4 linked regions of the Homo sapiens genome follow. The protein of the gene in region 4 purifies or fractionates together with the protein of the main gene of each other region. This does not show direct contact. Each region holds a gene or a part of one and is shown on either strand. Other genes may lie near its edges.

Region 1 (3,297 bases), on a different chromosome or scaffold from region 4:
AAATTGCCACAGCCACCCCAACCTTCAGTAACCACCACCCTGGTCAGTAGCCTTCAACATTGAGGCAAGATCCTGCAGCAGCAAAAAGATTATGACTTGCTGAAGGCTCAGATTATCGTATTTTTTTTTAGCAATAAAAAGTATTTTAAATTAAGGTATGTATGTTTTTTGACAGAATATTATTGCATATACTTAATAGACTATAGTATAGTATAAATATAACTTTTTTATATGCAGTGGGAAACCAAAAAGCTCATGTGGCTGGCTTGATTGCAATATTTGCTTTACTGCAGTAGGCCGGGGCTGAACCCACAGTATCTCCAAAGTATGCCTGTGTTAGGGGAAGGGGTACTGCAGGAGGGGAAATCTCATGAGGAAAGTCAGCCAAGTGATCACTTGATATTTCAAGACACAAGAAATTCAGCACTGTAAAAAATTAAGCTCAATAATTATACTGCCACGACTGTATTTCCAGTGTACAAGGCGCCAATAATTGGATCACCCACAAGACAACACACTGCGTTTAACATTTTTATTTTTAACTCCGCTTTGGTAGTACAAAAGTCATAAAAGTACAAACCAGACAGTTAAAAATACACTTGACACTCGAAATGGTGAAAATTTTCCTTACAAATTTTTACATCAAGGTAGTAGCCAACTCATTGATGACACCAAAAAGTTGTCCATCATTAGTGTTTTCTAGAGAAAGTCTGTTGTGGATTCCCTCATCCTTAGAAAGGAGGAGGAGTAACACAAGACCTGTAAACATCAGTTGCTTTGGGAACACAGGAATTCTCATCAGATAGTTCAGTATAAACCAGTAAAAAGCGTATGTGTTGAAAATACTGAACGCTTAATTTTGGCAAATTTGGAAGCCTGCCAGACAAAAACCGCTCAAGTATTTATTAGAAAATATTTAAAACATACTCTTGGTATCAATACAGTTTTAAATATTTTTGAGTATTCTCTTGCCTGTTGTATTGCTATTTAAAAAAAAGTGCTCTGACTTGAATAAGATGGAAAAATAATTAAAGCTAAAGAATATCTTACATTTTATCCCCCACCATTTTGAGGGCATATTTTTAAAGCAAAAAAGTATGCTTATTTGTTTTTAATTAAAATGATTAGCCTAGACTGCACATATATTATTTACACTAATACATACCCCTAAAAGTCCTATATTGCTACTTTCTGGATCTCAGTGAAATTTATTTCCATACTGACTTTCTCCAGTCCACAGTGTATATGAATATGTACACATACAGTGTTTATTAGTTGTCAGTAAAAATTCTCATGAAACTAAATTCCCCATTTATTTAAAAGGTTAGAAATGTTTAGTTTGATGCTGGAAATAAAATCATTGAAGTCTATGTACAGTAAATACTTTGAAGTATATTTTTATGGAAATCATCTTTTGGGAGACAAATGAAAGATGTGCATTTTCCTATATGAAATAAAAGAAGTGCTCAAGGCACCCCCCAACACTGACATGGAGGCGGGTCTTGGAGACCTTGTAACTGGCCTCCCCCACAGCTCACCCCAGAGCTACCATAAATCATGTAATACTATTTATGCCTCTGGGTCCTTTCAGGTGTTTTGTAAAATGTACAGTTATAAAAAAAAAAAAGAAAAAGAAAAGTTTGCCAGGCCTAAAGGGAAAAGTAACTGGAGTGTTTTAAATAATGAGCATTAGTTACAGGATGAAAAACAGGAAATACACAAAGAAAAACATGCCAGAGGTAGGTGCAGGCCCATCTTATATGAGAAGCAGGGTTCTAGGCCGGGCGCAGTGGCTCAAGCCTGTAATCCCAGAACTTTGGGAGGCCGAGGCGGGTGGATCACGAGGTCAGGAGATCGAGACCATCTTCGCTAATGCGGTGAAACCCCGTCTCTCCTAAAAATACAAAAAAAATAAGCCAAGCGTGGTGGTGGGCACCTGTAGTCCCAGCTACTCAGGAGGCTGAGGCAGGAGAATGGCGTGAACTCAGAAGGTGGAGCTTGCAGTGAGCTGAGATCGTGCCACTGCACTCCAGCCTGGGCGACAGAGCGAGACTCCGCCTCAAAAAAAAAAAAAAAAAAAAAAAAAGAGAGAAGCAGGGTTCTTTTGTTTTGGCCTTGGGTTGTCCAAACAAATTTGTGTGTGTGTGACTTTCAACCATTTTCTCCTTTATTCAATGGATTAACCAAGAATCGCTCAGCTAAAGGTTAAAAAAAAAAAAAAAACAAAAAAAAACAAAAAACCGGGTGCAGTGGCCCACGCCTATATTCCCAGCACTTTGGGAGGCCGAGGCGGGTAGATCGCCTGAGGTCAGGAGTTCAAGACCAGCCTGACCAATATAGTGATACCCCGTCTCTACTAAAAATACAAAAATTAGTCGAGCGTGGTGGTGCATGCCTGTAATCCCAGCTACTTGGGAGGCTGAGGCAGGAGAATCGCTTGAACCTGGGGAGGTGGAGATTGAGGTGAGTGGAGATTGTGCCACTGCACTCCAGCCTAGGGGACACAGCGAGACTCTGCCTCAAAAAAAAAAAAAAAAAAACCTTCTCAAAATGTGTAAGTGCTGTAGGAGTGACATGGTGGTGGCAGGAGTTAATGCTGAATTTGTGGTCAAGGAATCCAAAGTCTAGCATCTGGTCCCATCTGACTCCATGGTCCCTTGGGGAATCAACTCCTCAGGGCTAACTAGATTATTTCCACTGAGCTTTTACCACTGAAGATTCATCTTTTATCTTTTGTAACAGCTAACCTGTATGTATCAAGATCTTCTTACAACCAGTGTCAAAATAGGATGCAGGAACTGGAAAAAGAAACACACACTCACGTGCACACATGCATACACATATACACACACACCCCTGAGCATAAGCTCAGACTGTACATGAATAGTATCACTGCACATACTCATCATAATGGAAAAACTACAGTGTGTACACCAAGGCCTGGGATTAGGGGCTGGGAAGAGTAGAGGCTGGGAGTGGTTAAGAAGATAAAAACAGCTCTTTCCTTCCCTGGAAGTATAATAAAATTTTCAACAGACTCTTTCAACCAAAACTTGTTTCAAAGCAAACTGAATTCTGTATATGGCACAGCAATAATATTCCCTTTTAGGTTTTATCCACGTGCCTGCTGACTCCATGATAGAAACTGTATAAAATATATAAAAATATTCCCAAGGCAACTTCATATAAGTTTTCAGTCTCTTAGAGCTCTTCAAGTCAAGTCATTGCTGCAAGAGAAAACAAAAAATGTAGATCTTTAACCAAGGGTAAGCATCATATCACATATTAATCTGCCTG
Region 2 (5,080 bases), on a different chromosome or scaffold from region 4:
GCATTCCAGCCCGGCCCCTCACACACTCAGCTCCCACTCCAGGCCCACACTCAATCCTGCTGCCACAGCCTTCATACTCCGCCTGGTTGCCCCCAGCTCAGCACCCCCTACTGTGGAGGGTCTGCAGCCCCGTCCCCCAACCCACTAGGGTAATGCCTGATGCAGGAGAGCAATTTGGTCCCCTGCAGCCATGGTTGGGAGAAAAGGCAAGGGATGAGGAGACCAAGGGCCTGGAAACTAAGACCTCTGGAAGGAACCCGCAAACAGGCGCTCTGTGGGACCAAGAAGTTCGGTGAAGTTCTACAGGGGCCCAGACCCCAGAGCCGGTGGTGGTCATGGTGCAATGAAGCTATGAAGGCAGAGAGCATGAGGCTGGAGGAGTGAGGGGGCTGAGATAACGGAGATGGGGTGAAGAGGTCATGGAGCCGGGCCGAGGGTCAGCCTGGGGGCATACCGGGGAGGCTAGGCGGCAGGACAAAGCAGACAGAGGCAGCCTGGGCCAAAGGCACAGTTCCGCTCAGATATTTTATTTGTGTTTGTCTTTTTCTTTTTTTGGTGGGGGGAAGGGGACAGGTTGGAAGGGAGACAGAAAAACAAAATCAAAGAGGAGAAAAAAAACATGACTCTTCCCACCCTCCACCACCCCTGGCCCCAGGCCTGAGTCAATGAGGGTGAGGATGAGCACACACAGCGGGCGAACAGCAATAACTTAGGGGAGGAGCGCCAGGAGAACACAGAGTGACTGCTGGACTCCACAGCTGAGGAGGCTGCCTGTCTAGAGGTCCGAAGGGCTGGGCCTGGGGTAAGTGAGCAAACTGAGGAAGGTGGGTGAAAAGAGAGGACTAGGGACTGGAGAAACTTCACTGAGTCGTGGGAGATAAAGTGCTCAATGCTCTAGATTTGGGCTGGAAGGGCTGGAGTCAGCTACCTCCAGGGGGGCAGGGCCCGGGACTGGCGGGTGCGTGACCTCCGCCCGGCTAGAGTCCCTGGCAGTGGCTGGCGGGAGGCAGGGGGCCCTAGCTGGCGCTGGCTGCGTGGTAGTAGCCGGGGGATTCGGGTGGGCCGTTCACCCCGAAGCAGGCCCCAGCTGGCCAGTGTGTGGATGGCCCACGGGGGCAAGTGGGATGCTAAACCCTGGCTGGCCCGTGCCAGACGCCAGTTCCAGCCCTTGCACAGGACCCAGACCCTTGCCAACAGAGCTAATGGGTGTTGGGTGGTGCGGGGATTACGCCGCCGGGGCCCAGGGACGGGCAGGCGGCTGCGGAAGCCATCCTTGTTGGTTTTGGGGTACAGTGCAAACAGACCCCGGTCCCCCACAGCCCCACAGCCCTGCAGGGCCCGGAAGGCCATGGGTGACAGGCGCAGCAGAACCCGCAACCAGAGTCGAGATATGCCCCGGCGCACCCGGGGGCCCTGCTGCCGCACCCATCTGCCCCCCGCTGCCATAGCCACCAGAGGTAGAGCTAGGCCTGGCCAAGCTAAGAGCCAGGCAGCTCCAAGGCCCAGGGGAACACCCATGAGGCCTCGGCGCCAGCTCAGGCCCAGGACGGCCCCCAGTGCGGTACCCTGGGCCAGGAGTAGGAAAAGACTGGAGGGCAGGTGCAGGGCTGTACAAAGGAGCAGGTAGGAGGCCCCCAGACCCACCAGCCCCACCTCAAGGGCCAGCAGCGCTGCCTGCAGGCCACCCCCACCCTGGGCTGCCAGCAATGGAAGCAGCAGCAGCAGCAGGAGGGGCAGGAGGCCAGAGGAGGACCCCACTGCAAAGGAGAGGCCGGCCAGGAGGCCATGGGACAGGAGTCCAGGGAGCTGGCTGGCAGGGCAGGGCCTCAGGTGTGTTGGAGGGGGTTCAGGAGGGATGTCGGGGGAAGGACAACCATCTCCAGGATCCCTAGGGGTCCCAATCGGAGCCCCCTCTTCCTCTTCTTCCTCCTCCTCAGGGACGGGAGTCAGTGCTGGGCCCTGGACCCAGCCAAGCTCAAACTCCTCATCCAGAAGACTCTCATCCTCCTTCCCCCACAAGCTCCATGTCCCAGCCTCCTCCTGGCCAACAATGCTCCTCTCCTGGGGTACAAGGGAGGGCACCCTAAGCTCCTCTATCTCCTCAGGCAGACCCCAAACTTCCTCATCAACCAGGCTCCCATGTTTTTGTGGACTGGGACTAGGGGCTCCTGATTCTTCCCCCAGAATCCTCTGCTGCTTGGGCTCCAAAGTGGCCCCTTCCTTTCCCAGAATCCTTCTCTCTCCAACTGCTTCCTCCTCCTCGCCAAGCATTCTTTGGTCCAGGACTGCCTCCTGGCCAGGTGAGCAGGGCTGCTGTTCTATAGGGGTGCCTGTGTTGGGTGGGCCCAGAGCCCCAGGAATGGGGAGTGGAAGGCCCGGGGGGCGCTGGCCTGCACGTACTTTGAGGCTCTTGGGCTGCTGGCGAACCTGGGCCGCATGCTTCTGCCGCAACTCTTGCTCACGCCGCTTGTTGTACTCCAGCTGGTTGCCCAGCTCCGTCTGGTGCTGCAGGCGGGTGAGCTCAGCCCGCGTGCGCTGCACGGCCTGGAGCTGCCGCAGCTCCAGCTCCCGCGTGGCCTCGTGCTGCCGAAGCAGCAGTGCACACTCCAAGTCCTTCTGGGTCTGCTTCTTGTTCAGGTCCTGAGGCAGAAGAAATGCAGGGCCCGGGGCCTGGTCAGTATCAAGGAAGTGAGAGGCCAGGGCTCCTTGGCAGAGGGAGCTGGGGATGGCGGAAGAAACACAGGGCCCAGGGCCTGGTCAGTATCAAGGAAGTGAGGGGCCAGGGCTCCTTGGCAGAGGGAGCTGGGGATGGCAGGAGATGAGGGTGTAGGGGAGGCAAGCTCCTCCCTGGCCTGGGAAAAGAGGCCTAAGGAAATTCTGGCAGGGTCTGTTGGGGATGAGAAGTAAAAGGGGCACTGAAGCAAAGCTGAACTGTAACACTCGAGGGCCAAGGAGAAAGAAGACAAGAATGAGGAAAATGGAAAAGGGTGGGTCCCTGGGATCCACGAGTGAGCGGGAGGGGAACAGAGATTGGGATGCCTACCTCCCGCAGCAGGTCCTGGTCCAGGCTGTGCCGAGCCAGCAACATCTTGCGCTTGTACTGGCGACACTGCAGCTCAAAGTACTGGCGCTGCCGCCGCAGCAGCCCTGCTTCCTCCTCCGCCTGGCACTGCTGGAGCTGCTCCTTCTGCCGCAGCAGCCACTCGGCCTTCTCCCGCTTGGGAGTGCTGGGGTTCTCCTGGAGCTCCTGGGCGAGTGCAGAGGGAAGCAGGGTCAGGACCCACCTGGCTCGCCATCGGCTCCGCCCCCAAGCAGCCCTAGCTCACCTCCTTCAGCTGTTCCTTGCGAAGTTTGTAGGTCCGCTTCTGTGCCTCCAGCAGGGCAGCCAGCTCCTTCTTCTGCTGCCCAAGGATGTGCTGCTGGAACTTCCGCTCCTCGGCCTGGGCAGCTCGTGCCTCCTTCTCACCTATGGCCTGGTGCCGCCGGGCCAGCTTTTCTGCCTCTGCCCCAAAGCCAGCCCGCTGCGCCTCAAGCTCCCGCTGCAGCCGTGCACTGTGCTCCTCCCGTTCACCCCTCAGCCGTGACTCCAGGGCCAGCAGCTGCTTCTGGTGCTGTCGTCGCATCCGCTTATAGCCGCTCAGCTGCTCCCGCAGCGCAGAGTCCTGCTCATGCTCCTGGATCTGACGGCTGACCTGGGGAAGGAGAGAGGGTGAGAGCTGGGGCTCAGCCTGGCCCCTAGTTAATTAACACAAGGGGTCTTCCGTGGGGAAGAGCATGGGTTTTCAACTCATGGGTTTCATTCTCATTTAACACCTTCCTCACACACGGCCACTCTAGCCTGTTTCCTCAACTGGATAATGGTGATATTATCTACATCACAAGTTGGTGTGGCCGAATGATAAAAGGTGGCGAGCACAGGGCCTGGCACAAAAGTAGGAACAATCCATACTAATTTGAAACAGTGAGTCAGACATACCTGGGATCAAATCCCAGCTTTGCCACTTACCAAGCATGTGATCTCAAGTAAGTTAACTTCTCAAAGCACCAGTTCCCTCATCTGTTAAATGGGGAAATAATACCTCCTCATAGGGGCTGTGGGGTAAGTTCGGACTCTATCTAATAAGTGTTGGCTTCCTTCCCCTTCAGCAAACATGGTCGGCCTATCACTCCCCAGGTATTGAGGTGGGATCGGGGCCACAAGATGCTGGAATAACAAGAACACTGGGCTTGGACACCTTCATCCAAAGTCTGATCTCAGGTCTCATTCTCAATTGACTCTATGAGTGGCTCTCAAACTAGTCCCGGCAGCCAAGCCCCTGGCAGTCAAGACCTCTCAGCACAGTACCGCACAACACCATGGGATCTGAAGAATTGTTGGAACACAACCAGCACCAAGCAGAGGCCATAAGAACATACTAGACTTAATCAGTGGCCTCTAAGGGGATTGTTGACGCTCAAATGCAGCTCAGCAGGAACGTGATCTAAAAACATAGATGAAAAACTATGTTTTATGAAAAGCCTAAACACTTTTTCCTGTGAACTGAGAAAGACTGCCATGAGTTGATTTTAGGAGAGGACTAAGGGCCTGCTTACAGGAGCAGAGAGCCACCAAAGGCACTGGGGCAAGTGGCCCCTCTGAGCCACAGGTGCCTCATTTCTCCAATGGGATCTTACCCTTCCCCTCCCAGGGGGGCTGGGAGGGTTAACACAGGCCTGTGTGTAAGCCTGAGAGCTAACTGCTGGCATGAGACAGATATCTGAACACCATCCCTGCCCTCTGGGGCACAGAATCTGGCAAACCTATCATGATGCTGTTCAGGACCACCCAAGCACAGGGCACCCCCGGCACAGGGCTCCCCAGCACTGGACACCCCCAGCACAGGGCTCCACAGGCACAGGGCTCCCCCAGCACTGGGCTTCCCCAGCACACAACTGTGAAGCATCTGACTCACCAGAGGAGCCTGGGAAGGCAACCCAGGAGATGTCAGTTAAGTCAGGCCACAAAAACGGAGTAAGAGTTTGCCAAGCTAGAAACACCCAGATTGGGCCATATGACCAAAACAGTCCACTGGGAAGAGGA
Region 3 (7,000 bases), on a different chromosome or scaffold from region 4:
AGAAATTAACATTCATGCTCTGCTGGCGAGGATGTAAATAGGTATAGACTTTCTTGAAAAAAATTGAGACATATATGTTTGTATGTGTGTGTATATATATGTGTGTGTATCTATCTCTCTATATATAGATATATGTGTGTATCTATCTCTCTATATGTAGATCAGCTCCATGTCATCCTTAGTCAATTCTCATAAGGAATGTCTTCACTTTTACAATCAAAGTCAGGCTGTATTAGATAGGCATATGTATAAAACCCAGACTAATAACTATTATTTTCTTTGTTAAACTTCTGAGAACACCTTCGAATAATAGGAAAAGATGACTTCCTGTTAGGAACTGTAATTAACTATGTGTTTCCTCTTCCTGGGTGCTGTCTTTAACCATCAGTCACCATAACCTGCTTATATAACAAATAAAACTGAGATCTAGACTTGTTTTTAAATTTTAAAGTGTTAAATATTCTATTTTCTCTCTCTCTCTCTCTCTATATATATATATATACACACATATATATGAAGAGCCTTTAATTTATTTCCTAGCCTTTGATTCAACAATTCCAATTCTAGGAATTTGTCTAAGGAGATAATCAGAGGTAAGAAAAGAATAGCTGTAAGAAGGTCCAAGAATAAAATATAAATTTTAAACAAAAACCTATGATAGAGCAAGAGCACCATCAACTCAGACAGACATCGCCACTTTAAATTCCAGTTCCCTTTCTAGTCTCATGCATTTCAAGGAAATCACTTCTGTTCGAACTACAAGCAGCCAGAAAGAGCAGACAGTAAAACACAAATAAGACAGCTCGGGCGCAGAGGGAGGTGGGGGGAAAGTCTCTGGAGCAACTGCCAAACTTCACCCTCACAAAATGGGCCCCAGTAAAACAGTGAGCCTTACTTAATAAGCACATTCCTTTCCCTTCAGGTGTACCAAGATAGGGAAGCAAAAAGCAGACTCGGGCGGGGTATGCCTACAGCTGCAGAAAGATGGATGGGAACAGACACACAACTCTCCCTCCCAGAAAAGCACAACAAAGAGACAGAGAAGCAGTCCAAGCCTCTGATAAACTCTCCCACCCTGAAGCCTTAGAAACTCTTAGTCTGTAGGAGAGTGTGTCTCTAACCTAACTCAGCCAGCCGCCCCTCTCAGGTTTATTCAAAATAAACCTGTCAGGCCGGGTGCGGTGGCTCACGCTTGTAATCCCAGCACTTGGGGAGGCCGAGGCGGGTGGATCACGAGGTCAAGAGATCGAGACCATCCTGGCTAAAACAGTGAAACCCTGTCTCTACTAAAAATACAAAAAAATTAGCCGGGCGTGGTGGCGGCCGCCTGTAGTTCCAGCTACTCCGGAGGCTGAGGAAGGAGAATGGCGTGAATCTGGGAGGCGGAGCTTGCAGTGAGCCGAGATTGCGCCACTGTACTCCAGCCTGGGCGACAGAGTGAGACTCCGTCTCAAAAAAATAAAAAATAAAAAATAAAAATAAATAAACAAATCTGTCCCTGTTGACTGTCAAGCCGCCCTTTGTGTTTCTCTCCTCTTTCTTTAATTCTTACAACCTATATGTCCAATAATAGGATGTTTGTTATAGTTGATTGTAATGTAACTGTAGGTTAGAATACTTTACTCATTTAAAAAATTATCTTGTCATAAAAGATTTTTAACAACCTGAGAAAATTTAAATATTTCTATGAGAAAAGGTAAGATATGTGCAATATATTATGTTATACTGCATATAATAATATGTAAGTATTATGTGCAATTTAAATCCATGTCTTATCTCAAAAGGGATTATGTAACTATATATGTATATAATAATGATAATTATTATCATTTTAAATTTATTGACCTGGGTGCAGTGGCTCACACCTGTAATCCCAGCACTTTGGGATGCTGAGGCGGGCAGATCACCTGAGGTCAGGAGTTCAAGAACAGCCTGGCCAATTGCCAAATGGCAAAACCCTGTCTCTACTAAAAATTAAAAAATTAGCCTGGCATGGCCTGTAGTCCCAGCTACTTGGGAGGCTGAGACACAAGAATCGCTTGAGCCTGGGAGGCGGAGGTTGCAGTGAGCTGAGATCGCGCCACTGCACTCCAGCCTGAGTGACAGAGCAAGACTCCGTCTCAAAAAATAAATAAATAGGCCGGGCGCTGTGGCTCACTCTTGTAATCCCAGCACTTTGGGAGGCTGAGGCGGGCGGATCACGAGGTCAGGAGATTGAGACCATCCTGGCTAACACAGTGAAACCCCGTCTCTACTAAAAATATAAAAAATTAGCTGGGCGTGGTGGCAGGCGCCTGTAATCACAGCTATTCAGGAGGCTGAGGCAGAAGAACGGCGTGAACCCGGGAGGCGGAGCTTGCAGTGAGCTGAGATCCCGCCACTGCACTCCAGCCTGGGCGACAGAGCAAGACTCCGTCTCAAAAAATAAATAAATAAATAAATAAATAAATAAATAAATAAATAAATAAATTTTTTGATACTTAATATGTGCCAGGCACTTTTCTAAGCACTTTACATAGAATGTTTCATTTAATTCCCACAACTGTATGAGGTTAATACTATCATTATTCTCATTTTGCAGATTAGGAAATCAAGACATAGAAAAATTAAGGAATTCTCCCAAGGTCACACAGCTAATAAGTAGCACATCTAGGAACTGAACCCATGCAGTCTGACTCCAAATACATACAAAAATACACATATAAATACATACACATAGGCCAGGTGTGGTGGCTCACGCCTGTAATCCCAGCACTTTGGGAGGCCAAGGTGGGCGGATCACGAGGTCAGGAATTGGAGACCAGGCTGACCAACATGGTGAAACCTCATCTCTACTAAAGATACAAAAAATTAGCCGGGTGTGGTAGCACGTGCCTGTAGTCCCAGCTACTTGGGAGGCTGAGACACAAGAATCGCTTAAGCCTGGGAGGCAGAGGTTGCAGTGAGCTGAGATCGCACCATTGCACTCCAGTCTGGGCCACAGGGTGAGAATCTGTCTCAAAAATACATACATACGTACATACATATACACATATGCATTTACTTATTTATATACATATACAGATATAGCATATATGCACAGATAATTAACATGTATAAGTCATACTCCAAAATGTTAAACATGTAGGTTAACATTTTTATTTGTGCTTTCTTTGTATTCCACATTTCCTTATTGAACATATATTAATTTTAGAACTTAAATTTTAAAACTTAGAAACTTATCTTTTCCATATTCTGCTAGCAAAATATTTTTGTCTAAGCAAGGAAATACTCCAGTGTGCCATGGAGACTAATCCAATTCCCACTTGGATGAATATTCTCCAAGATTTCCTAGCCATACAAATGCCCTGTCTCTCCCACAGTGCATTAAAATTATGGCCATCTAGTAAGGCCATTTCAAGCCCCATCTCTTTCTGAAGTCTATTCAGATATTCTTTCTTTAATTTCTGCTGCACTTATAGACAGTACAGAGCACAATACTTAATTGTTCTCAAATTGTTTCCTGTGTATTAGCTTTGGCTCCTCAATTGGATACCAGGTTCTTTATACACTAGCATCATGTCTCACCTTTTTGTTTTGTTTTGTTTTGTTCCCCACCCTATGTCACTTCTAGTACTGGCCCAACAGGAAATGTTCAATAAATACTTGATCATAGACTGACAGATGTTCTTCAAGTAACATAACTATAGTGTAATAGGAGCTTTCTGAAAATTATGGCTAATTCATTAAGAGTGAATTGATTCCAGTGATGGAAATTCATATGATGCAAAATGTGCTGCAGAAAAGAGAAGATTTGGCTGGGCACAGTGGCTTACGCCTGTAATCCCAACACTTTGAGAGGCCGAGGTGGGCAGATCACCTGAGGTCAGGAGTCTGAGACCGGCCTGACCAACATGGTGAAACCCCATCTCTACTAAATACAAAAAATTAGCTGGGTGTGGTGGCGCATGCCTGTAATCCCAGCTACTCGGGGGGCTGAGGCAGGAGAATTGCTTGAACCCGGGAGGCGAAGGTTGCAGTGAGCCCAGATTGCGTCATTGCACTCCAGCCTGGGCAACAAGAGTGAAACTCCATCTCAAAAAAAAAAAAAAAAGAAAAGAAAGAAAAGAAGATTCATTTTAATACTGATTTAATTGATATATATTATTTTAATTCACTCAGTTTAAAACTAGATTTTTCCCACAAAATTCCAGATATTAGCAATATCCCTGAAATAAATGAGAGATCCTCCTACATTACTCTAATCAAATGATAATTAATTAAGTCATGAGGCATAGAAACAATTTGAGACACAAAATAAATAATGGTAATATTTGGGTTATAACACTTAAAATACAATAACTATTAATTGATAGTGATAAAACTAAGCCAAATAAACAAATAAATGTGGGAGAAGGGATAGTTTTTCCTTACTGAAGAATTTCCTTACTGTAGAATACTAATAAATGTAAAATTAATGAGAAAAAGAAAGTCACCATTAGGCAAACACCATAGTAGTAACTGTTACAGGCAAGATCCACTGAAGGATGCTAAACTTAGTGAGTAAAAGTTTGAGAAGAAACAGGACAGTCTCAAAGTACCTTCCCCAAGATATTTGTTAATTACAAAAGGAAAAATAATAACCCTACCTTGGAAAAACCTAGCAGAAGACACCTGACAGACATCACCTTAACGAAGTGCTCAAGGTCAATAAAGCACATCCATTTCATGCACCCCCACATGAGATACTAAGAAAGGCACAACATCACTTCTGAGGAGTTCTTTCCAAAAATGCATAACCTCAATCTAATCATGAGAAAATATCAAAGTCAAATTGAGGGACATTCTACAAAATACTGACAGTAGTCTTCATACTGTCCAGGTCATGAAAGACAAAGAAGGTAGAAGAAAGCATCAGATTGGAGGTCATTAAGGGTTAAGCGTAATAAGGGATCCTGGCTTGGATCCTAGAACAGAAAAAGGGCATTATTAGGAAAACTGATGAAATTAGATAAGACTTATAATTTAGATCAGGGATTGATTGACTCTGGCCTGCTGCTGCCTGTTTTTTAATTAAAGTTTTATTGGAAGACAGCCAAGATCATTCACTTATATTGTCTATGGCTGTTTTCTCCAATGGCAGAGCTGAGTAGTTAGGACAGAGACTGTAAGGCCTGCAAAGCCTAAAATATTTGCTATGCCAGGATCAGCATTAGGTGAGGCAAGCAGGACACCTAGGTCTAAGGAAATATCCTCTCTCTCTCCCTCTCCCTCTCTCTCTCTCTCTCTCTCTGTCTCTCTCAAATTTCTGTACATGCGCAACCCTAAATGTTAGTGCCTCCTTAAATTTTGCATCCTACACACCCTACTTGCCTCATTCTAGTCCTGACTCTGTCTATCTAGTCCTTTACAAAAAAATGTTTGCTGGACCATGGTAGGGTTAACTATAGCAATGTTAATTTTCTGATTTTTTGGTGGTTTGTGCTTGCGATCGGTGGCTGCGTCACTCTGGTAAAGGTGTGCAGTTTTGGGCCATGATCTCTGGGCTGGGATGATCCAGGCTCTCGGTAGAGGCAAGGGAGCCCAGCTATAGCCATGGCCAGTACAATGGTAGCAGTTGGACTGACCATTGCTGCTGCAGGATTTGCAGGCCATTATGTTTTGCAAGCCATGGAGCACATGGAGCCTCAAGTAAAGCAAGTTTTTCAAAGTCTATCAAAATCTGCCTTCAGTGGTGGCTATTACTGAGGTGAGTTTGAACCCAAAATGACAAAACAAGAAGCAGCATTAATGCTAGGGGTAAGCCCTACTGCCAAAAAAGGGAAAATAAGAGATGCTCATTGATAAATTATACTCTTAAATCATAGCAGCCAAAATCAGTGAAGCTAGAAATTTACTAGAAGGTCAAGCTAAAAAATGAAGTAAATGTATGATGAATTTTAAGTTCATTTTAGTTTATGTATATGAGTACCAAGCTTTTATAATAAAATGCCTCAGAGCTATAATTTTTTTTAATTTCTGATTTTGATCATTATACTTTCATTAGGTATGATGTTAACATAAAGGGAAGCTGGGTTAAGGGTATATAGGAACTCTGTTGTACTATTTTTACAACTTTTCTGTAAGTCAAAAATTATTGCAAAATAAAACATCTTAAAAATAATGCAAACTCAAGGATAGGATAAGTGTACTAAGTTCCAAGTGCACAGTAACACTGTGGGGGCCAAAACAACAGCCACAACCACAACCACCACAACTTAGCGCTCTGCACCAGGCACTGTTCAAAGTACTTTATATATCACGTATTATTTAATCCCCACAACTCTGTGAGGTGGGTACTATTTACTTCCATTTACAGGTTAGAAAACTGAGGAATAGAGGCCGGGCGCGGTGGCTCATGCCTGTAATCCCAACACTTTGGGAGGCCAAGGCGGCGGATCACTTGAGGTCAGGAGTTCAAGGCCAGCCTGGACAACATGGTGAAAGCTCATCTGTACAAAAATACAAAAATTAGCTGGGCATAGTGGCATGCACGTATAATCCCTGCTACTCAGGAGGCTGAAGCAGGAGAATCACTTGAACCCAGGAGGCTGCAGTGAGCTGAGATCCTGCCACTGCACTCCAGCCTGGGCAACACAGTGAGACTTCATCTCAAAGAAACAAAAATTTAAAAAAAAAATCCAATATAGGGAGAAAGGCTAACTGTCTTGGAATCAATCTTTGTTAAATTGTTTTGAAATGGGGAATATATTGTTTTCTATATAACATGGAAATCCTCCCATAATTTATATATGTCATTATGTAAACTAGAAAATTAGTCTCATTGCTTGTTTTCATGGTTGTATTTTCAATTTCTGAAAGATAATTTTAAAAACTCTCTGAGAAGGAAAAGCTTCAGGATTACTGCTCTAGAACCATTAGAAAATACATAATTTTACTTTAATCAATTTCTAGCACAAACTTTAAATTGTAAGAACTATATACCAAAGCAAAAGTATTATGTGGGTGTCTCAATTCAATT
Region 4 (7,370 bases):
TTCTTCCAGGCTCAGGTCAGCTGTCGGCCACCAGGCCAGGGTTTGCCACTGGCAAGTTGGATTTTGTGTTACGTGCCTAACCAGGAGTTGTCACCGCTTGAGGCTTAACCTGGTTCTGGGCGGCTCGGTGTGTGTGTCCCAAGGCCATGCCACACAGTCCGGCTCCTCAGCCACTGGTCAGAAGGTGCCCCCAACCCTGGTGGCCTCATCCAGGTTTGTAGGATGGGCCCTGAGTCTCACTGGCCCCTGAGCGTCCAGGACACTGGCCAGAAGGGTCCGCTCCACCCCCACCTCCTGTTGCCTAGCAACAAGGGCGGTGGGTCGCAGTGGCCCTCGGGCCACAAAACTGGCTCTGGGAGCTGGGGGGCGGGGAGTCTGGCTTTAATGTCATTTGGGAGCTTCTTCCGGGAGCTGGGTCACCTGCCTCCCGGGGCACAGTGGGGCCGGAGTGACTAATGCAATCAGTGGTCACCTGAGCCACTGTGCTGGGTGGGTGGGAGAGGGCACACTGCCCTGCCCCTGCCTCTTGTGCTGCCCTGCTGGGAGCCCCCCACGTGGGAAATGGTGGGTGAGGGGGATCCAGGGGATGGGCAAGGCAAGAGGCACAGTGGGGCTTGGTAGCCTCAGCCCTAGGGGTGGGCTCAGGATCCCTCAAAAACACGGGGGTGTGGCTAGATGCCATGGGGGCTGAGCTGAGGCCTGAGACTCCCCTGCTGCATCCTGTGCCGGCCTCGGGGGCCTGGGCAGCTGCACCTCTGCTATAGAGGGGTCAGGAACTCAGCCCACACAGCCCCACCCACAGGTGAACTTGCCCCAGGGACACGAAGGCCACCAGCTCACCTCAAACACCTTCACAGCTCGGGACAGCGCCGAGGGCTTGGTGGCCCTCGGGGAGAAGAGCAGGTTTAGCACGGCCTTCCCCTCCTTCTCCTCAAAGGCCACAGCCTCCAGGGGGTCCCCGGGCTCCGAGGGGACTGCAGCGGCCGCTGCTGCCACCGCCGCCTCCCGCTCCTTGCGGGCGTCCTCGATGAGGCTCTGCCTGCGCCCAATGAACCGCGGGGACTGTGGGGACAAGGGGCACCCATGCCTCCTCCACCTGCTGAGACCCGGGGACCTCCACCCACAGCTGGTCCCACAGTCGGGCAGCGCTGATGGCACACAGAGGCAGGGGATGAGAGCACGTTTTTGAGCGCCTACTGTGTGCCTGCTGGGGCAGATGCTAGCCGAGGTGCCTGCGGGCATTGCACGCCCTTCCCGATGGGGGCAGCCCAGTCAGAAGCAGTGGTGGTGGGGGAGGAGTGGGGGCTGGGAAGGTGCTCGCCTGCTCCCCACTCTGTGGCGAGCAGACAGACAGAGACGCTGTGTCACTCATCCCCAGGCCAGGCGCTAACTGGATTAGTGATGGGAAGAGGGCGATGTCTTGATGGACAGTGGCATCGGCTGCCGGGGAGGGAACGGCAGCTCAGGAAGGAGCTGCCCCCACAGGGCCCCAGTGAACAACCCCCCTACCCTCCTGGCTGCCGCACAGGGGACCCTTTCTCACACTCCCATCAGGACACCTGTCCTCGGGCCCTGCCCCTCTGTGCCACCCCGCAGGCGCCCGCTCCTGGCTGCCTTGTCATCCCTCCACCCTTTGTCATAGCTCTGGGCGCAGGTGTCTCTCCCTGGGCTCAGCGCCTCTGACCCCTCGATCCCAGAGCCGTCCCAGGCCTGGACAGAGGGGGACTTGGCAGACACCTGGGGCTCATCCCTTGGAGCTGAACTCCCAAGAAGGCTCTGGGCCCCTTGTAAGAGAAGAATCAGCTTCATCCTGAGCTTCCAGGGTTGTGGAACATGAAGGGGAGCAGCAGAAGCCCCTCCCAGAGTCCCCTCTTACTTACCCTTGGGGTGGGGGTGTAGGATGCAGCTGGGGCTGCAGTTCCAGGCCACGGAGAGCCTGTGAGGCTGGGCCCCGGGGCGCCCTGGGGAGGGGATGCCTGATGGGGAGCCTGGTGGGGGAGGGTAGGGGAGGGCGGGGGAGGACGGGGGAGGGCGCCCTGTGTCCCTGAGAAGGTACCTGGAAATGACACTGCTACAACTCACACCACATTTCAATCAAGGTCCATAAATAAAAACCCATTTTAAATGTGCCAGGGAGCCCAAGGTTCTGAGTGCCCAAGGAGGCACCGAAGACCCCTCCTGTGGGCTGAAAAGCTCCCGATTATCCAGCCTGGCCCACACAGTCCCCTGTACACAGGGCTTCCGAGTGCAGGTCACAGGGAACACAGACTCCATGGTGAATGAATGAATGAATGAATGAATGAATGAGGGAAATAAGGGAGGAACAGGCCAATGGGAATCACCCCAGAGCCCAGATACCCTTTGAATTTTGCCCCCTATTTGCCCAGGACCCCCCACCATGAGCTGCTGCTAGAGCCTGGGAAGGGCCTTGGGGCTGCCTCCCCAAGCAGGCAGGCTGGTTGGGGTGCTGACTAGGGCAGCTGGGGCAGAGGGAGGCAGGGGCAGGTGGGAGTAGGGTGGGGGCTGGGTGCAGCAGCCGGGGACCTCTGGCCATCTTGGATTTTTTGGATGGATTTGTTTCCACATTCCGATCGTTAAGATTCAAGATGAAACAAGACACAGAGACCCACACGACCCCCGAGAGAGGTCGGCCTAAGAGGGGCACACACAGGGACAGGCATCACCTCACCCTCCCCCAACAGGGACTCAAACACCAGGCACAGGGGATGCCGCTGTGCCCAGGCCTCCACATCCACGCCGCGTCCCAGGGGTTTGCATGGACCCTGAGCCTGGGGCTGCCAGCCAGGCTGGGGAGTAGCAGAGGCAGCTGGCACCAGCCCTGGGCTCCGGTCCACTGCGGCCGCCGGGCACCTACCTGCCCTCTTACCATGATGGCCTCTGCCTGCTTGGCGTCCAGCTCAGACACGGCCCTGCGGAAGCCCTTGGCCTGTGGCGTGGTGGCGTCGGGGGTGGGCATGGCTCAGTGTGGAGGTCCGGGCTCCGTCTCCACAGCCCTGGCCCAGCAGCCTCTTATAAGCTGAGCTGACGTCAAAGCCCCCTCTGGGTCCCCCACCTTCCCCTCCTTACATCCCCCACCCCTGCCTGCTGTGCCTGATGGAGGCGGGGGTGGGTGAGGAAGGAGGGAGGCGCAGGAGAAAGGGCTCGTCCGTGGAATCTAATTGCCTTCACTCCCCAGCCCTGTCTGAATCATCCTCAGCCCGCGGGCTTGCGGGGACCAGGGGCTCGTGCTCTGCGGGGGGCTGAGACAGCCAGGGTCCCCTTGGCCCCACAGCCCTCAAGAGAGCACACAGGGAGGGGCTTTCTGGCAGCCCAGGGGCACACTTTTAATGAACACCAGAACCTCGTGGCAGACCGACCCAGAAAGCCCCAAGACGGGGAATCCAGCCTCCAGCCTCAGATGTCAGGAGGCAATTTGTTTGCTTCTCCAGAAGATTCCAGGCCGTGTGTCTCATAGACGTGGTTCCTAGGAGTGCCATCTGCCCACAGCCCCCGGGCCCTGCAGGTGTGGCCCTTGCAGCGGCTTCCCAAGCTCGCCCCGTGGGGTCCAGAATGTCCCAGGAGGGCCCACCTGTCCAGTGTGGAGGACCCTGGGAGGCTGAAGAAGACATCTCTAAGGAGACGCCACGCGTTTCCAAATGGCTGCCACCTCCTGCATCACAGTCCCCACCAGGGTTGCCAGGGCGACCAGGGCCAGGGACGGCTTCCACCCACCCCACTCAGCCCCTCTATGGCCCACTGCTAGCTCCTGGCTTCCCTCGGGGTCCTGTGGCCCCTTCTTTAAAGAGCACGCACGTCCCTCAGTGCTGAGGGCCCTGATGCCTTCCCCTTGGAGAGACCTTTGCAGTTTCTCCTCTACCCCACCAGGCCCCGGGTTGAGGGTGACCCTGGGGTGACCTGAGAACTCCCTTGAGGACAACCCCAGCCTAGAGCCTCCCCCAAGTTCCATGTCCGCCCCGCAGGCACCCGCATCCAGCCCACGCCCACTGGCACCTCCTGCTCCCAGCCGCTGCCCCACCCAGGGAGAGTGATGCCCCTGCCCAGGGTGGCTTCTGGCCCTTCTGGTGGAAGGGGAGGCCTCCCCATCCCTCTGGGGTCAGCAGAGATGGCCAGAGCCTGCCTTGACAATGCTGGACTGTACAGAGGGAAGGACGTGGCCCCAGAGTGCATGGCCTGCGGCTGAACGCTGCCACCGCTGTCCCTCCTGGAGAAGAACCGTTTCCGACAGGGCTTGGGGCTTCCTGTATCTGCTGGGCTTTCTGGTGTTGGCAGCCCAAGATGACACCCTGGGCCCAGCAGGAGCCAGAAGCCCTAGACGCTCCCTGACTTCTCGAAGGCCTACCCCGGCTGGTCACTGTGGCAGCCAGAGCTGGCATCTCTCAGGGCCCACTCTGCTCCTGTCAGCTGTGGGACTCCCCGCTCCCCGTTCTCTCTTCAACAATAGCCCCTGGGACCTTTCCTAAAACTGCTTCAGCCATGGCATCCCTGTCCCACACCCCTCCGTGGCTCCTCGCTGCCCTCTGCAGGCAGGCTGAGTGCTCAGTCAAAGCAAAGGGAAGACCCCCCAACCCTTCCCACTTCCTGGCCCAGAAGGATTTGGGGCTCCGTGATCCCCGGTTTGCAGTGTCATTCCTCACCCACCTCTTATCCGGGTGAACTCCTATGCATCCCACAAAACCCAGTTCCGTCGCTGCTCACTCTGCAATGCCTGCCCTTTCTTGCCACGATATTAATGCCCCTCCCTTGCGCTCCTCTGGAACATCCCTGGGGGCAGGGAAGCCTACCGCTCGGCCCCTGCTGTCTCTCAGCACCCAGTGCAGACCCTGTCCTCTCTCGGAGATGCTATGCCCCTCCACAGTGTTCCCCAAAGGCCTCCACCTCCTGTGGGTCCTGCCCACAGTAGGTCTGGGTGCCTGCTCAGAAGGGCGTTGGAGGGATTTGCCTCCAAGACCTCAGCCTGAAGGCTCAGCCTCTGGCCTCGCCCTGCGGCCCGTGAGCTTCTGTCACCCAGGGCTGAGGCCCACCCACCTGAGTCCCTGGTGATGGCCCTTGGGTGGCCCAGCCTCCATGCCCAGTGTCCAGGCCTGGTGAAGCTCTGCATGGCTCCCCCGAGCTCCCCTCAAGGTCCCCAGAAAGAGTCTCATTTGCCTCCCCCAGGGTCGGCTGCTGAGGATCCCTCGGTGAGGCAGCTCCAGGCCCCCCAGCACCCCGCCCCAGCTCTGCCCAGGGCGGCCCCAGTGCTCAGGTGCCCAGGCCAGGAGGAGAGACATGCCTGATGAACACCACGCCGGAGGCTCATGGCCCACACTGCCGGATGTGGATTTAACCTTTCAGCAAATGTCTTCCACTGATACAAATATTGCTTTTTAATTCGGTTTCCTGCCGGGCCAGTTGTGCTTTCATGGAAGCCCGATGGGAACTAAGCTTACTAGACTCTTCCTTGGGGCCAGGCTCTCTGGAGGCAGGAGCCCAGGCCAGGTGCTGAGGCTGGGGAGGCCCCTGGACCCCTGTGGAGGTGAGTGCTGCCCTCAGGTGCCTGCACCTGCCCTGCCTCCAGCCTCCCGCCCCAATCAGGCAGCATCCATCCCTGCCTATCCATTCCTGGGAAGCCTGTCCCACACGCCAGCCCCTTCAGGGCCGGGGAACCATGCTGTACCCCAGATCCAAGGCCCCTGTTGGCACAGAGGTGCCCCCGACTCCAGTCCTGGCCCTGGCCCCGCCCTCCTTTGTGCCGTGCCCCTCTCCGATTCCAGATGGTGAGGGTATCCATGGAGGCCCCAAAAGTCTACCCTGGCCAGCCTCCCCGCTCCCAGCCCGAGGGTACCTCTCCAGTCTGGACCACCCATGATTGAGCCATGCCCCGTGTCACCCACCTGCCTCTGGCCCTCTCCAGAGATGTCCACAAACACCAGGAAGGCTCCACTCCAGCGCCCACGGGACGAGGCCTCTCCACGCTGGGCACAGGCCTGGAGGGAGCACACGGCTGGCCCCTGGTCTTGGTAGAGCTCAGTGCTGGGTCAGCCTGCGGCATCCACGTTCGGGCAGCTGAGGTGTTCACAGACCCATTCTGCAGATGCGAGGACTGAGGTTCTGAGGTGCAACTTCTCAGGGGTCATGCAGTGAGTCTCCAGCCCAGGTTTCCCAACTCCCAAGACACTGGTCTTTCCTTTTTTTCTTTTTTTTTGAGACCGAGTCTCGCTCTGTCACCCAGGCTGGAGTGCAATGGCGCGATCTCGGCTCACTGCAAGCTCCGCCTCCCCGGTTCACGCCATTCTCCTGCCTCAGCCTCCCAAGTAGCTGGGACTACAGGCGCCCACCACCACGCCCAGCTAACTTTTTGTATTTTTAGTGGAGACGGGGTTTCACTGTGTTAGCCAGGATGGTCTCGATCTCCTGACTTCGTGATCCGCCCACCTCGGCCTCCCAAAGTGCTGGGATTACAGGCGTGAGCCACTGCGCCCGGCCTGACACTGGTCTTTCAAAGATCCGGTGGCATCCATCCCCTGGCACTGTGGGGCTCAGGAACCTAGGCCACAGGGAACAAATCAGACAGGCTGCTGTGACCAGCGTCCCATCTACAGAGACCCCAGAGGGAAGGGCAGAGCTGGGACAGGGTTCTCTGGAGGCCGAGGTCACGCCCCAAGAGACCCCTGGGGCCAGCATACTGGCCCCTGGGAAGGAGAAGGGCTGGAGCGGAGCCCCACCAGGGGGGGCTATGAGGTGGGGCCAGGAGTGAGGGCCGACCCAGGCCAGATCAGAGACAAAACAGGTGACCAGGGGAGTGGGGGCCCCGCAGAGGTCTGAGGAGCCCTTGCTGTCCCCTCCATTGCACCAGGCTCCACCTTCCTGCACGGAGCCCTCTGGGCTTCCCTCCATACCCCACCACCCTCCACCACTTCCGCCGTCCCTGTGGTTACAGCCCCTGCCACCATGGCCGTAAGGAATGCTGAGCCAGCTCCACAATGGAGCGTGTTCTCTCTCAACAGCCTCTCAGCCCGAGGCTTAATCACCCAGATTAATCACCCAGCACGTCTGTGCCCTGGGACTGGTGCCCACTCCCCGCGTGGGGCAGGGTCAGAGTGCTGACTTCGACCTGGCTGTGAGGCTGCTCCGCCCACAGGGCGAGTCTCTGAGGCCACCAGGCCTGCTCCCCAGCACCAGCCTTGCCCACCACGGGCCCTTCCCAAATCCAGGCCTGCTGGAGGAGCCCAGCCATGTGCTGGGGAGGAGCCCAGGAGGTGTTCTGGGTCCCCTGGCTGACAGGCATCGCCCTGTGGCTCTGCAGGGTCTAGCCATGGCCTGGCTGTGGTGTGCACAGGGCTCAGGTGGCCCTGTGATCTTTGAGAGCCAGC

The links.
Region 1: the proteins of TH (region 4) and RELL1 purify together in Homo sapiens (affinity purification with mass spectrometry; 2 studies listed by BioGRID and IntAct, with this or other methods). This does not show direct contact.
Region 2: the proteins of TH (region 4) and TAOK2 purify together in Homo sapiens (affinity purification with mass spectrometry; 2 studies listed by BioGRID and IntAct, with this or other methods). This does not show direct contact.
Region 3: the proteins of TH (region 4) and DNAJC12 purify together in Homo sapiens (affinity purification with mass spectrometry; 2 studies listed by BioGRID and IntAct, with this or other methods). This does not show direct contact.

What each region holds. Positions count from the first base shown.
Region 1 is NC_000004.12:37,610,116-37,613,412, forward strand, and holds the end of RELL1 (RELT-like protein 1 precursor), read right to left. Parts: intron 3,228-3,297; 3' UTR 519-3,227; downstream 1-518. UniProt on the Homo sapiens protein: Induces activation of MAPK14/p38 cascade, when overexpressed. Induces apoptosis, when overexpressed.
Region 2 is NC_000016.10:29,983,825-29,988,904, reverse strand, and holds the end of TAOK2 (serine/threonine-protein kinase TAO2), read right to left. Parts: intron 3,693-5,080; coding exon 3,327-3,692; intron 3,248-3,326; coding exon 3,044-3,247; intron 2,641-3,043; coding exon 925-2,640; 3' UTR 547-924; downstream 1-546. UniProt on the Homo sapiens protein: Serine/threonine-protein kinase involved in different processes such as membrane blebbing and apoptotic bodies formation DNA damage response and MAPK14/p38 MAPK stress-activated MAPK cascade.
Region 3 is NC_000010.11:67,828,189-67,835,188, forward strand, and holds part of DNAJC12 (dnaJ homolog subfamily C member 12), read right to left. Parts: intron 1-7,000. UniProt on the Homo sapiens protein: Probable co-chaperone that participates in the proper folding of biopterin-dependent aromatic amino acid hydroxylases, which include phenylalanine-4-hydroxylase (PAH), tyrosine 3-monooxygenase (TH) and peripheral and neuronal tryptophan hydroxylases (TPH1 and TPH2).
Region 4 is NC_000011.10:2,168,810-2,176,179, forward strand, and holds the start of TH (tyrosine 3-monooxygenase), read right to left. Parts: upstream 3,007-7,370; 5' UTR 2,978-3,006; coding exon 2,888-2,977; coding exon of another isoform or gene 2,876-2,887; intron 1,962-2,875; coding exon of another isoform or gene 1,881-1,961; intron 1,063-1,880; coding exon 841-1,062; intron 1-840. UniProt on the Homo sapiens protein: Catalyzes the conversion of L-tyrosine to L-dihydroxyphenylalanine (L-Dopa), the rate-limiting step in the biosynthesis of catecholamines, dopamine, noradrenaline, and adrenaline. Uses tetrahydrobiopterin and molecular oxygen to convert tyrosine to L-Dopa.